Linked DNA regions of Homo sapiens: all the other regions are linked to region 3. Evidence: fine-mapped expression QTL. A gene starts in region 3. Each other region holds a variant in brackets. All regions are shown on one strand. Distances are from middle to middle.

What was found. PIP is the estimated chance that this variant, and not a neighbour inherited with it, causes the effect.
Region 1: its variant is fine-mapped to the expression of TMED4 in whole blood (TOPMed, PIP 0.98).
Region 2: its variant is fine-mapped to the expression of TMED4 in whole blood (TOPMed, PIP 0.99).

The regions. Positions count from the first base shown.
Region 1 is chr7:44,549,712-44,553,953 of GRCh38, forward strand. No RefSeq gene overlaps it. Among named protein-coding and RNA genes, the nearest start is that of NPC1L1, 11 kb to the left of the region's middle. The variant G/T (reference allele first, on the strand shown) is at 2,036.
Region 2 is chr7:44,631,065-44,635,306 of GRCh38, forward strand. All of the region lies in intron 2 of OGDH (oxoglutarate dehydrogenase), which reads left to right. Among named protein-coding and RNA genes, the nearest start is that of OGDH, 27 kb to the left of the region's middle. RefSeq lists an enhancer at 3,067-3,116. The variant T/A (reference allele first, on the strand shown) is at 1,854.
Region 3 is chr7:44,579,677-44,583,918 of GRCh38, forward strand. TMED4 (transmembrane p24 trafficking protein 4) reads right to left here and starts at 2,555. Exons shown (of 5, transcript NM_182547.4): 1 at 2,371-2,555; 2 at 2,047-2,147; 3 at 1,773-1,898; 4 at 1,417-1,563. The coding sequence starts at 2,530. RefSeq lists silencers at 2,179-2,278, 2,679-2,838 and an enhancer at 2,929-3,038.

The DNA.
Region 1 (4,242 bases), 30 kb before region 3:
TAAGCCACCATGCCTGCCAAGTCACTCTTTCTTTTTCCCTTTTTTGTAAAGCTGGGATCTTGTTATGTTGCCCAGGCTGGTCTCAAACTCCTGGCCTCGAGCAATCCTCCCACCTCAACCTTCCAAAGCACTGAGATTGCATGTGTGAACCACCACACCCAGCCAAAAAAACATAATTCTATATTTTTGAGCAAACAATGTGTAAAGATGGAATTTTTGACACCAATAACCTAAAGCAGGGACAAAGCTGTATAGGAGTAGAGTTTTGTATGCTGTTAAGTTGGTATCAATTCAAATTAGATTTTTATAACTCTAGGATTTTATTTGTAATCCCCAGGGTAACAACGAAGAATAATACATAGAATATATGCAAAAGGAAATGAAAAGAGAATCAAAATGTGTCACTACAAAAACAATTTTTAAAACCCAGCCAAGCAAGGTGACTCATGTCTATAATCCCAGCACTTTGGGAGGCTGAGGCAGGAGGATCATTTGAGGCCAGGAGTTCAAGACCAGCCTGGGCAACATAGTGAGATTCTGTCTCTACAAAAAATTAATAAAATAAAACAAAAAGCAAATAAATAAATAAATACAGAAGTCAATAATGAAGAAAATGAAAGACAAAAATCTATGAGACATACAGAAAAGAAAAGGTAAAATGGCATAAATCCTTATCAGTAATTACTTCAAATTTAAATGGATTCAACTCTGTAGTCAAAGTTGGAGAATGCAGAATACATTGTTTTAGAGATAGGATCCAACTATATGATGTCTAAGACACTCACTTTAGATCTGAGGACACAAATAGTTTGAAAATAAAAGAATAGAAAAAGATATTCCACGCAAATAGTCACCAAAAGAGAGCTGGAGTTGCTACACTAATATCTGACAAAATAGAATTTTTATTTTATTTATTTTTGGAGACAGGGTCTCACTGTTGTCCAGGCTGGAGTGCAGTGCCACAATCTTGGCTCACTGCAACCTCTGTCTCCCGGGTTCAAGCTATTCTTGTGCCTCAGCCTCCCAAGCAGCTGGGATTACAGGCGTGTCCCACCACACCCAGCTAATTTTTTGTATTTTTAGTAGAGACGGGGTTTTGCCATGTTGGACAGACTGGTCTTGAACTCCTGACCTCAAGTGATCTGCCCACCTCAGCTTCCCAAAGTGCTGGGATTACAGGCATGAGCCATTGCACCTGACCACAAAATAGAATTTAAATAAAGAATTGTTACAAAAGACAAAAATGACATTATACATTACTAAAAGGGTCAATTCATCAAGAATAAGTAATAATATATATGCACCAAACAATGTGACCTTAAAATATGTAAAGCAAACATTACATCATTGAAAGGAGAAATAGACAATGCAACAATAAGTAGTTGGAGACTTCAATACTCCATTTTCAATAATTGATGGAACAACTAGCCACAAGACCAGTAAGGAAATAGAAGTCTTGAACATTTATAAAACACTTGGACACTTGTATATATACAACATTCCACTCCATAACAGCAGGATACACATTTCTTTCAAGTGCATATGGAATATTCCTCAGGACAGACAGTACGTTAGGCGACAAAACAAGCCTTGTTATATTTTAAATAATTAAAATCATAGAAAGTATATTTTCCAGTCACAATGGAATGAAACTAGAACTCGATAATAGAAGGGGCTGAGCACGGTGACTCACACCTGTAATCACAGCACTTTGGGAGGAGAAGTTGGGAGGATCTCTTGGGCCCAGGGGTTCAAGATCAGCCTGGGAAACATAGAGAAACCCCATCTCTAAAAATAAAAATAAGTTGGGTGTGGTGGCTCACACCTGTAATCCCAATACTTTGGGAGGCTGAGGGAAATGAACTGCTTGAGCCCAAGAGTTCAGAACTTCCTGGGCAACATGGTGACATCCCATCCCTACTAAAAATACAAAAAATTAGCTGGTGTAGTGGTGTGCACCTGTAGTCCCAGCTTCCCAGGAGGCTGAGGTGGGAGGATCACCTGAACCTAGGAGATCAAGGCTGCAGTGAGCCAT[G/T]ATCGCACCACTGCACTCCAGCCTGGGCCACAGAGTGAGACCCTGTTTCAAAACAAAAATTAGCCAGGCATGGTGGCACACACCTATGGTACCAGCTACTCAGAAGGCTGAGGCGAGAGAACTACTTGAACCCAGGAGATCAGTGCTTCAGTGAGCCATGATCACACCACTGCACTCCATCCTGGCTCAAAAAAAAAAAAAGTAAATAAATTACAGGAAAAAAACCCTGAAAATTCATGATATTTGGAAATTAAACAACACATGCTTAACAACCAATGGATCAAAGCAAAAATCACAAAGGAAATATAAAAATACCTTGAGACAAATGAAAATGAAAACACAACATACCAAAACTTATGGGATGCAGCAAAGCTGTGCTAAGAGGAAAATTTTTAGCCATAAACACAATCAAAAAAGAAGAAAGCACCCTGGCGCGGTGGATCATGCCTGTAGTCCCAGTGCTTTGGGAGGCCAAGGGGGCAGGATTGAGGGAGACCAGCTCGGGCAACATGGCTAAACCCTGTCTCTACAAGAAAGATAGGAAAAATTCGCCAGGCATGGTGGCACGTGCCTGTAGTCCCAGTAACTTGGAAGGCTGAGGGATGAGAATCACTTGAGCCCAAGAGGTCGAGGCTACGGTGAGCTGAGATTACAGCACTGTACTCCAGCTTGGGCAGCAGAGCAAGACCTTGTCTCAAAAAAATTTTTAAAAATTAAAAAAAAAAAATTTTTTTAAAGAAAGGGCCAGGTGTGGTGGCTCATGCCTGTAATCTCAACACTTTGGGAGTCCATGGCAGGAGAATCATATTAGGCCAGGAGTTCAAGACCAACCTGGATTAACATAGCAAAACCCCATCTCTACAAAAAAGAGAGAAGGAGGAAAGAAAGGAAGAGGAAGAGAAAGAAAAAAAGAAGAAGGAGGAGGAGGATGTTGGGAAAAAGCTGAGTGTTGGGAGGGAAACTGAGGCAGGACTTGCATAATGTCCTCTGGAATGTGTCTAGACTTGCTGGCTCCTTGCTTCTAGCCCTCCTAGGCTCCTATTCCCATTATCTCAAGTAGCAGAACATGTTCCATATAAATGCTAAACTGTCACAGCTGTAGATCATGCGCCTGCCCTTTTGACCTCCACATTCTCACCACCTGTTTCTTTTTTTTTTTTTTAATACTTTAAGTTCTAGGGTACATGTGCACAACGTGCAGGTTTGTTACATATGTATACATGTGCCATGTTGGTGTGCTGCACCCATTAAGTCGTCATTTACATTAAGTATATCTCCTAATGCTATCCCTCCCCTCACGCCACAACGGGCCCCGGTGTGTGATGTTCCCCTTCCTGTGTCCAAGTGTTCTCATTGTTCAATTCCCACCTATGAGTGAGAACATGCCTCACCACCTGTTTCTTTGTTGGATTACCAATAAATACTGTGGACTCCCAGAGCGCAGGGCTTTCGCAGCCTCCATGATCACGATGGCCCCTTGGTGTCCCACCTTTATCTCTCAAACTGTCTTTGTCTCAATCCTTTGACTCCACCGGACTTTGTCACCCCCACGACCTGGTGTTGGGTCTGATCACCCCAACAGGAGGAGGGGGAGGAGGAGGAAGGGCGAGGAGGAAGAAGGAGGAGGGGGAGGAGAAGAGAAGAAGAAAGATTTGAAATTTTCTAACTGCACACCTTAAGGAGCTAGAAAAAGAAAAACTAAACTCAAAGCTAGAATTTTTAAAAATAATAAAGACTACAACTGAGATAAGTGAAATAGGGAATAGAAAACTATAGAGAACAGCTATGAAACAAAAAGTTGATTTCTTGAAAAAAATATTCTGAAGGAGCAATCTATAATACAAATAAAATAATACAGAAAAATAAATTTTAAAAGAAAAAAATCAACAAAATTGACAAACCTTTAGGTAAGGTGACTAAGAAAAAGAGAAGACTCATATTACCAAAATCACAAATGAAAGTGGGAACTTTACAATTTTACAGAAATAAAAAATACAATATAATACTATAAATGACTGTATAACAAACGATAATCTAGAAGAAATGGACAAATTGCTAGACATTGCATACCAAAACTGATTCATGAAGAAGCAGAAAATCTAAATAGACATATAACTAGTAAGGAAATTGAATCAGTAATTTTTAAACTCCCCCAAAAGAAAAGCCCAGGATCAGATGGCTTCACTGGCGAATTCTAGCAAACATTT
Region 2 (4,242 bases), 51 kb after region 3:
ACTGGTCTGTGGCCCGGGGGTTGGGGATCCCTGGTTTAGAGAATAATAACAGGAAAAAAAAGTGTACATGTTCAGTACAGGCAGTTTTTTACCAACTATTTTCAATCCACGTTTGGTTGAATCCATGGATGCAGAACCCACAGATACGGAGGGCTGACTGTATACATAAACTGCATGGTCTACGTAAATGGGGTTTCAGCGATGAGCTTTGAAGTTACCCCTTGATGATTTTTTGTTTTTGAAGATTCAGGAGGTACATGTGTGGGTTTGTAACATGGGTACGTTAAGTAATGGTGGGAATTGGGTTTCTAGTGTACCCATCACCCAGATAATGAACATTGTACCCAATAGGCAATTTTTCAACCCTCACTCTCCTACCACCCTCCCCCACCGCCACTTGATAATCTTTAACTTCACATGTTAAGAGCAATCTCAGCACTTGTGGCTTTTTGTGTTAAATCAGCTAAACTGACTGAGTGCGCCTTCTCCAACTTTAGCACAGTATTTCACTCTTAAGCAGTTTGCATTTATGGTTTATTTAGGGTGATAAAATTATAACCTCTTTGAAACAACAGGAAACATGAAGCAACACCCTCACTTGTGTGGTAGTTTGCAGCTCATGACAGCTGTGTTCGAAGCTTGTGCTGAGTGGCGGCTGCAAGAGGAAAAGCAGTCTTGCCCTGTTATCCTAGCAGGATGATTAAATAAGTTTAAACAACAGTTAAAATTCTAGCTCTCTTTTCTCTCTCTCTCTCCCCCTCTCCACCCCCTTCCCTCTTTCCTTTCTCTCTCCTCTCTCTCCCGGCCCTTAAAAAGAAAAATAAATAAATAAAAACATTTGGAATTCTAATAGAACCCACTGAGCTTCTGAAAGGAAGTGCATTATGCTGTGCTGTGAAGGAGCCCAACAGGGGCTCACGGTCACTCAGCAGGATGATGGATGCAGGCTTCAGGGCCAGGAGCCAGACGCAGCAAGAAAAAACCAAAAATTTGGATTATGAAGTAAATGGAGAGGTTCCAAGATCAAACCAAGAGGTGTTTGTTGATTTTGTTATGTGCTGTGGGAGCATGGACCCCTCAGCAGGTAGAAGGAGAGCAAGTTTGAGGATGTGGTGCAGGAGGAGTTGGGATCCCCAAGAGCAGGAGGGACTGAGGCCAGGACAGCAGGCATACGAGGTCACTGAGGCTGGTGGGAGGAGAGAGGCTTACTCTAAATGAGGATCACTGCATCTTTTGGAGCTCTTCTTTTTGAGACAGGGTCTCCATTACCCATACTGGAGTGCAGTGGCACCATGATAGTAGCCTCAAACTTCTGGGCTCAAGTAATCCACTCCCCCGCCACTCCCCCACGCCTCAGCTTCCTGAGTAGCTGGGAGTACAGGTGCACACCACCATGCCTGACTAATATTTTATATTTTTTATAGAGACAGGGTCTTGTTTTTTTGCCCAGGCTGGTCTCAAACTCCTGGCTTCAAGCCATCCTCCTGCCTTGCCTCCTAAAGTGGTGGGATTACAGGCGTGAGCCACTGAGCCTGGTGGATGTTTTTTGTTGTTGTTGTTATTGTTGTTTTGAGATGGACTTTCGCTCTGTCACACAGGCTAGAGTGCAATGGCACGATCTCGGCTCACTGCAACCTCCGCCTCCCCGGGTTCAAGTGATTCACCTGCCTCAGGCTCCCAAGTAGCTGGGACCATAGGCGCGTGCCACCACGCCTGGCTAATTTTTTGTATTTTTAGTAGAGACGGGGTTTCGCCATGTTAGCCAGGATGGTCTCAATCTCCTGACCTCATGATCCGCCTGGTGGATGTTTTTAATGATTATCCTTTTGTACTGTACTTTAAGAAAAAAAAAA[T/A]TTTGTTTAATGTCAGAAATTGAAAGGGGAGAGAGATCAAAAATACCTTAATGGGGCCAGGCACAGTGGCTCACGCCTGTAATCCCAGCACTTTGGGAGGCTGAGGTGGGCAGATCACGAGGTCAGGAGATCGAGACCATCCTGGCTAACATGGTGAAACCCTGTCTGTACTAAAAATACAAAAAATTAGCCGGGCATGGTGGCGCACCCCTGTAGTCCCAGCTACTTGGGAAGCTGAGGCAGGAGAATGGCGTGAACCTGGGAGGCGGAGCTTTTAGTGAGCCAAGATTGAGCCACTGCACTCTAGCCTGGGCAACAGAGCGAGACTCTGTGTCAAAAAAAAAAAAAAAAAAAAAACCCTCAATGGGAAAGTAGACTCCAAGAGTGAAAAGGAGCAAATTGTTCCAGTGAGTTCCATTCTGTAGCACAGGTGGCCACAGGTGCTTGCCTTTGAGGAAATGAAAGAGCCATGCTTTGTAAGTCAGAGGCAGGCTCAGCTTCCCCGCACAGTCTGAAGCTGGGTGGCGGTGAGAAATTACTAAAAGGTTAGTGCCGGTTTTTTAGATGAAGTCATCATGTTATTAAAAAATAGTCTGTTTAGTCTCTAGGTTACTGTTCTCTGGCTCCCCTCCCCATCCAAGACTCCCTTGGAGGGAGGTTTGAGGACTTTGGGATTCTCATATCTCTTCGCGTCCATGATTGGATCGTGAGGTGAGGAGATAGCCTTTAGAACCCTCTCTTTGAGTGGTCAGTCACGTGGTATTCCCTCTGAAACCCTGGAGCAGATGCTTTGTGTAGCTGGGCTGGGGTTCCCCCAAATAGGGTTGCATAATTATTGAGGACAGATGAGGCCTCAACCAGACGACCACAGGTGACCCCAGACTGTGGGTCTTCCTCACCTCCTTGAGAGTTGCAATTCTGAGAGCTGATAAAATGTGCCATTGTGTGCAGATCTGGGTAGTTTGAAGCGTTCTCATTTCCTGAGGTGTGTCAGAAAGACTGCGTGAGAAAGGGGTCACAGTATCTTGGATGTCATCTTTTCATGCAGTAAAAAGTCTGGTTTCCATGAATGTTTGTATAACAAACCACCTCAAAACTTGGCACCAGTGTAGCATGTCTCATGACTCTGTGGGTTGGCTAGGTTTCCCCACTCCTCCCACTGCCAGCTCCCTTGGAGCTGAGGCTCACACCAGGCTAGAAGCCATGAAGGCCTCTGATGTGTCTGGCAGTTTGTGCTGGCTGTTCACTGGGCCCTGCCATCCTCCAGTAGGCCGGAGCGATTCCTGCACAAAGTCCCAGAGTAGCTCCAGACAGGGAAAAGAAAGGCTGTGGGGCCTTTGAGGCCTAGGTCCAGACCGTACACTGCTACTCCCCACGCCATTACCTTGGTTAGAGCAAGTCACAGACAACCCTTAGGGACATCCGTTTGGGGAGAGGAAAAGGCATGGCCACTGGACAGCCCTCCACAGCTCTTTTCATAATGACCTGATAGAGCAGCCACCTTTAGTCTAGTGCAGAATCCCAGCAAATATCATTCTGATATCAGTAGATTCCATAGGGCAGAGCTGAAGCAGCTGTTCTTTGCTAATCTTGGAAGTTTATTGATGTTTTATTTACACACCTGTACAGACAGAAGATAATAGAGATTGTTTAGAAATATTCTGTCACCTATAATGACTAAGCATTGCTATAATGGAGCATGTGGTTTCCTTAATTGAAGAATACCTAAATAGAAGCCCATTCTTAACTGGCCTCAGTATAAACAGCTTGTAGTGGCAGGTCACCAGGCCTGGATCACAGTGCCCTACCTTGTTTTTGCTTCATAGGCAGAATGGTGGTAAGTGGTACTCTGGCCTGGGCAAGGTCTGAGCAAGGCCTGCATTGATGGAGGGTCCAGAGTCCAGCTCTACCATCTGCACATTTTCTTTGGAGACTTGTGCTTAGCCCAACAGCATGAATCATTTGCTGAAGGCTCTGGAGGTGGGCATTCCATCCACAAGTCTCCCCAATAGGGAGTACCCTGTTTGGACATACAGGGTAGTCACACATATGGGTTTTAAATCTTGTTCTTAGGATATTTTCAGGAAAAGCTCTGGCCCACACGTTTAGGACCATTTCCTGGGCAGCATTGGAAGGAGTGGTAGAGGTCATGCAGGCCTGCCCTGTCTTGTGTGCAGGAAAAGAATGAGTTGTTGGTCTACACTGAGGCCGGGATGGGAGGCCTGCCCCTTACAGCAGCGCCGGCTGAACTCCAGGCTGGCTGGTCACATGGTGCCCAGCAGCTGACTTTTTATCAGCTTGGCTGGATTAGAATGAGCTGAAAGAAGAGCCATACGCCGGTGTTCCTTGGTTACATGGTGCCCTGTAGTTGATATTTATAGCAATTAAA
Region 3 (4,242 bases):
GTTGTGAGGTCCCTCCCTGCGTGTAATTACTCAACTCCAGGACCAAACTCCTTTTGGAATACTATCTGTGACTCCATTAGGAGTGCTATGGTCTCCCCACTGAGGCTGCCCCAAGAAAGGGACAGGCTGTCCCTCCACAAGCATCTCTGTTAGGACTGAAATCATGATCCTACCATTTCCAACAAGAGTCCAAGAAAAACAGGTAGGCAATGGCTATTACTAGATTGTGAACTGTCCTTTCTTCATTTTATTTTATAGAGCTTAAAAATGACTACTGAAAGCGAAATGTGGCACATGCATACAATGGAATATTAGCCTTAAGAAATTCTGACACATGCTATAACATGGATGAACTGTGAGAACATTATACTCAGTGAAATAAGCCAGTCACAAAAGGACAAATACTGAATGATTCCACTTATATGAGATAGGGTAGTCAGGATCATAGAGACAGAAAGTAGAATGGTGGGTGTCAGGACAAAAGGAAACGGGAAGTTATTGTTTATAATAAGTACAGATTTGCTGGGTGCAGTGGCTCACGCCTGTAATCCCAACACTTTGGGAGGCTGCGGCAGTGGATTGCCTGAGGCCAGGAGTTCAAGACCAGCCTGGCCAACATGGTGAAACCCAGTCTCTACTAAAAACACAAAAATGAGCCACGCATGGTGGCACTTGCCTGTAATCCCAGCTACTTGGGAGGCTGAGGCAGGAGAATCGCTTGAACCTGGGAGGCGGAGGGTGCAGTGAGCCGAGATGGCGCCACTGCGCTCCAGCCTGGGCAACAGAGCGAGACTCCATCTCAAAAACAAAACAAAATAAGTACAGATTTTTAGTTTGAGAAGATGAAAAAGTTCTGGAGCTGGATGATGGTGTTGGTAGCACAACATTATGAAGGCACTTAATACCACTGAACTATATAGACAGTTAAAATGACACATTTGGTGTTATATTTTACCACAATAAAATGTTTTGATAAAAAAGCAAAACAGGCAGGGCGCGGTAGCTCACACCTGTAATCCCAGCACTTTGGGAGGCTGAGGCGGGCGGATCACTTGATGTCGGGAGTTCGAGACCAGCCTGACCAACGTGGAGAAACCCCCGTCTCTACTAAAAGTACAAAATTAGCCAGGCATGGTGGCGCATGCCTGTAATCCCAGCTACTCAGGAGGCTGAGGCAGGAGAATCGCTTGAACCTGGGGAGGCGGAGGTTGCAGTGAGCCAAGATCATGGCATTGCACTCCAGCATGGGCAACAAGAGTGAAACTCCGTCTCAAAAACAACAAACAAACAACCTATCTAAACCAATACTTCTCATTCCATTCTCTGCAGAGCTGATCTCCCAAGCAGAAACTTGAGTAGGTATAGTGGGTATAAAGGTCAACTGCCCTCTCAAATTACAAGGAGATATGCACTTGCCCTTTGGTAATCCTGCTCCTTCTGAATCTGTTCCACCTGATCAAGCAACTGGCGGGCGCGGAGCTGTAGCTCCGTCAGCTTATCTTTTGCAGCAATCTCAGGGTAGTTGTTGGCATGCTCCCCAACCTGGATGTCGAGATGCACCCGCTACAAGGAAACATGGAATGTATGAGTGGTGGGGCCTCCAGTTGTCTGTTCCAGGGTATGGAACCCACTATTGTCCCTGGCTGTGGAGCAGAAGGCAACATCTGTCTCCCCAATTCTGACTGTGCTACAAAGTTTCACAATCTTGATAAATCAAAATTTGGAAACAAGTGAGAGATTCTAAGCTGAAGCCAAAGAGAAAATCCTCTTACCAGTTTGCCACCAGCGAAGAGAGCCATCCTGGTAGAATTGGAGTGCAGACAGATTTGATGGTCACCGGGCGTGTGGGAGGTGAACGTGAAGCGGCCCTCCGAGCCGTACTGCCGGGACAGCACCACCTGCAACATATGTGAGTGAAGGCCCCACCTTTATACCGCAGGCTCTCCAAGTGCAAGTTCCTGTCCCTTGAGGCCTCCTCCAGGCAGTGCTTTACACCCCACGGGAGCTCCACTGAAGAACGGCTGCGTGGGCCAACGCCAGCCTTACCTTGCCGTCGGGGTCCTTCACTTCCACGTGCATGCCCAGGCCAGGGGTCGAGGGCAGGAAGACCTCCTTCTGCTTATCCCACATCTGGGTACGATAGTTGCCTGCGGGGCAGACACATAGTCACGACCGGCCCTAGTGGGCCGCCTCTCCGCCCGGCCCCCTCCGACGTGCGGCCCGGAGCTCTAGGCAGGGGGCCTGGCGTCCTCGGGGCACCCTCAGGCTAGGTACTGGGGGAGCCAGCGACCCGGCTGGGCTCGGGAGGAGGGAGCGCCGCCGAGGGCTGAGCTGGGTACAAAGGGCCTCCCCACCCTCAGCCCGCCTGACCGATGACCATGGTCTCGTCGGGGATTTCCTCGATGAAACAGCGCTTCTCGGTCTCGCCGATGTGGAAGTAGAGCCCCTGGGCGCCTGTGGCGCACAGCGCGAGAAGCAGCAGGGCCTGCCGCCCCATCGCCCGCAGAGGCCCAGCCCCGACACCTGCCATCGCGCCTCAGCCCCTAAGCGCCTGCGCACATTTGCGCATCGCTCTGCGCCTGCGCGCCACCCTAGCGACCCTGAGAGTTAGGGGAAGAGGACGCCTGCGCAGTGATATGTACTCGCCGTCTCCTGCAACTCCATCCGTACCGAACACTGCCGCGCCCCGCCCCCTCACACAGCCCGGCGCCCGCCTACCCCCGCAACGAGAGTAGAGGGCGCATGCGCAATGACGTTCGCCCTTAATTTCTCGCCCCTTACCCCGCAGCTTACCTCCGGCATCTCGCAGGGGAGGCACGCCTGCGCAGTCACGCCCGCCCTCGGCCCCAGTCAGCGATTTGGGTCTCGGAGCACCAAGGAGACGGTGGACGGAATCTGACCAGGCTTGGTGGCTACGATGGCCTGAAGCGTGCCTTTTGGGTTCTCAGCTCGGGCTCACAAGTGTTTTCTGTGCTAAATACAAAAAGCCCTGTGATGTTTTGCTTTGCGTGTCCACCTATCTGACTCGTAAGAACCGAGGCTGAATCCAGACCCACACTCTGTCACGTCGGGAGAGCCTGCCGCGGCGAGCCTCTGCGAGCGGGCATTTCTTGGGTGGGGACCAAAAGCCCAGTGCTGCCATAGTTTCGGATCATTCTTTTAAGAAGCTGGGGCCGGGCGCGGTGGCTGGCACCTGTAATCCCAGCACTCTGGGAGGCTGAGGCGGGCGGATCCCTTGAGCCCAGGAGTTCGGGACCAGCCTGGGCAACATGGTGAAACCCCCGTCTCTACAAAAAATTAACCGGTGTGGTGGTGTGCGCATGTAGTCCCAGCTACTTGGGAGGCTGAGGCAGGAGAATCGCTTGAACCCAGGAGGTCGAGGATGCATTAAGCAGTGATCGCGCTCCAGCCTGGGCGACCGAGGGTGATACCTTGTCTTAAAAAAAAGGTGGGAGAGTGGAACGAAAACTTGGAATAAGTAGGGTCATGGAGCTTGTTTACATCCCCTAGTTACAGCACATCCTTTTGAAAGTGAAAAACAAACTGGAATGTTACTTAGTGGGCATGGAATCGAAGCAACGGAAGGTTAAAACTGTTTTTATCAAGGCCAGGCGGGCGCGGTGGCTCACGCCTGTAATGCTAACACTTTGGGCGGCCAAGGCTGGTGGATCATCTGAGGTTAGAAATTCGAGACCAGTTGGGCCAACAAGGTGAAACCCCCGTCTCTACTAAAAATACATTTTATCAACAGAATTTCGAAACTTTTATATAATAGAATAATTACAATGAACTTTCATAAAGAACTTGAGCATACCTGGATTTTGGTATCCGTAGGGGTCCAGGAATTATCCCCCTTGGATAATAACGGAGGGCTGTACTCATCATCCAACTTCAACAACAGTTTGCTGCCTTTCTCATTTCATGTATCCCTTTCTGCATTTTTTTTTGAAGTGCTGTATATTAAAGCAAATCCTGGACATCATGTCATTTCACCTATAAATACGTCAGTGTGTGTCTCTAACAGATAAGGACTTTATACTATTATCACACCCACCAAAATTTTAAAAATTATTTAACATCACTTAATACCTAGTATGTGTTTAATTTTCCCCATTGCCTTAAAAAATTTTGTACATTAGATATTTAGGGTCCAAACAAGGTTTACTTACTGCATTTCATACAAATATATGTCTCTTAATATATAACAATTTTGGCTGGGCACAGTGGCTCATGCCTGTAATC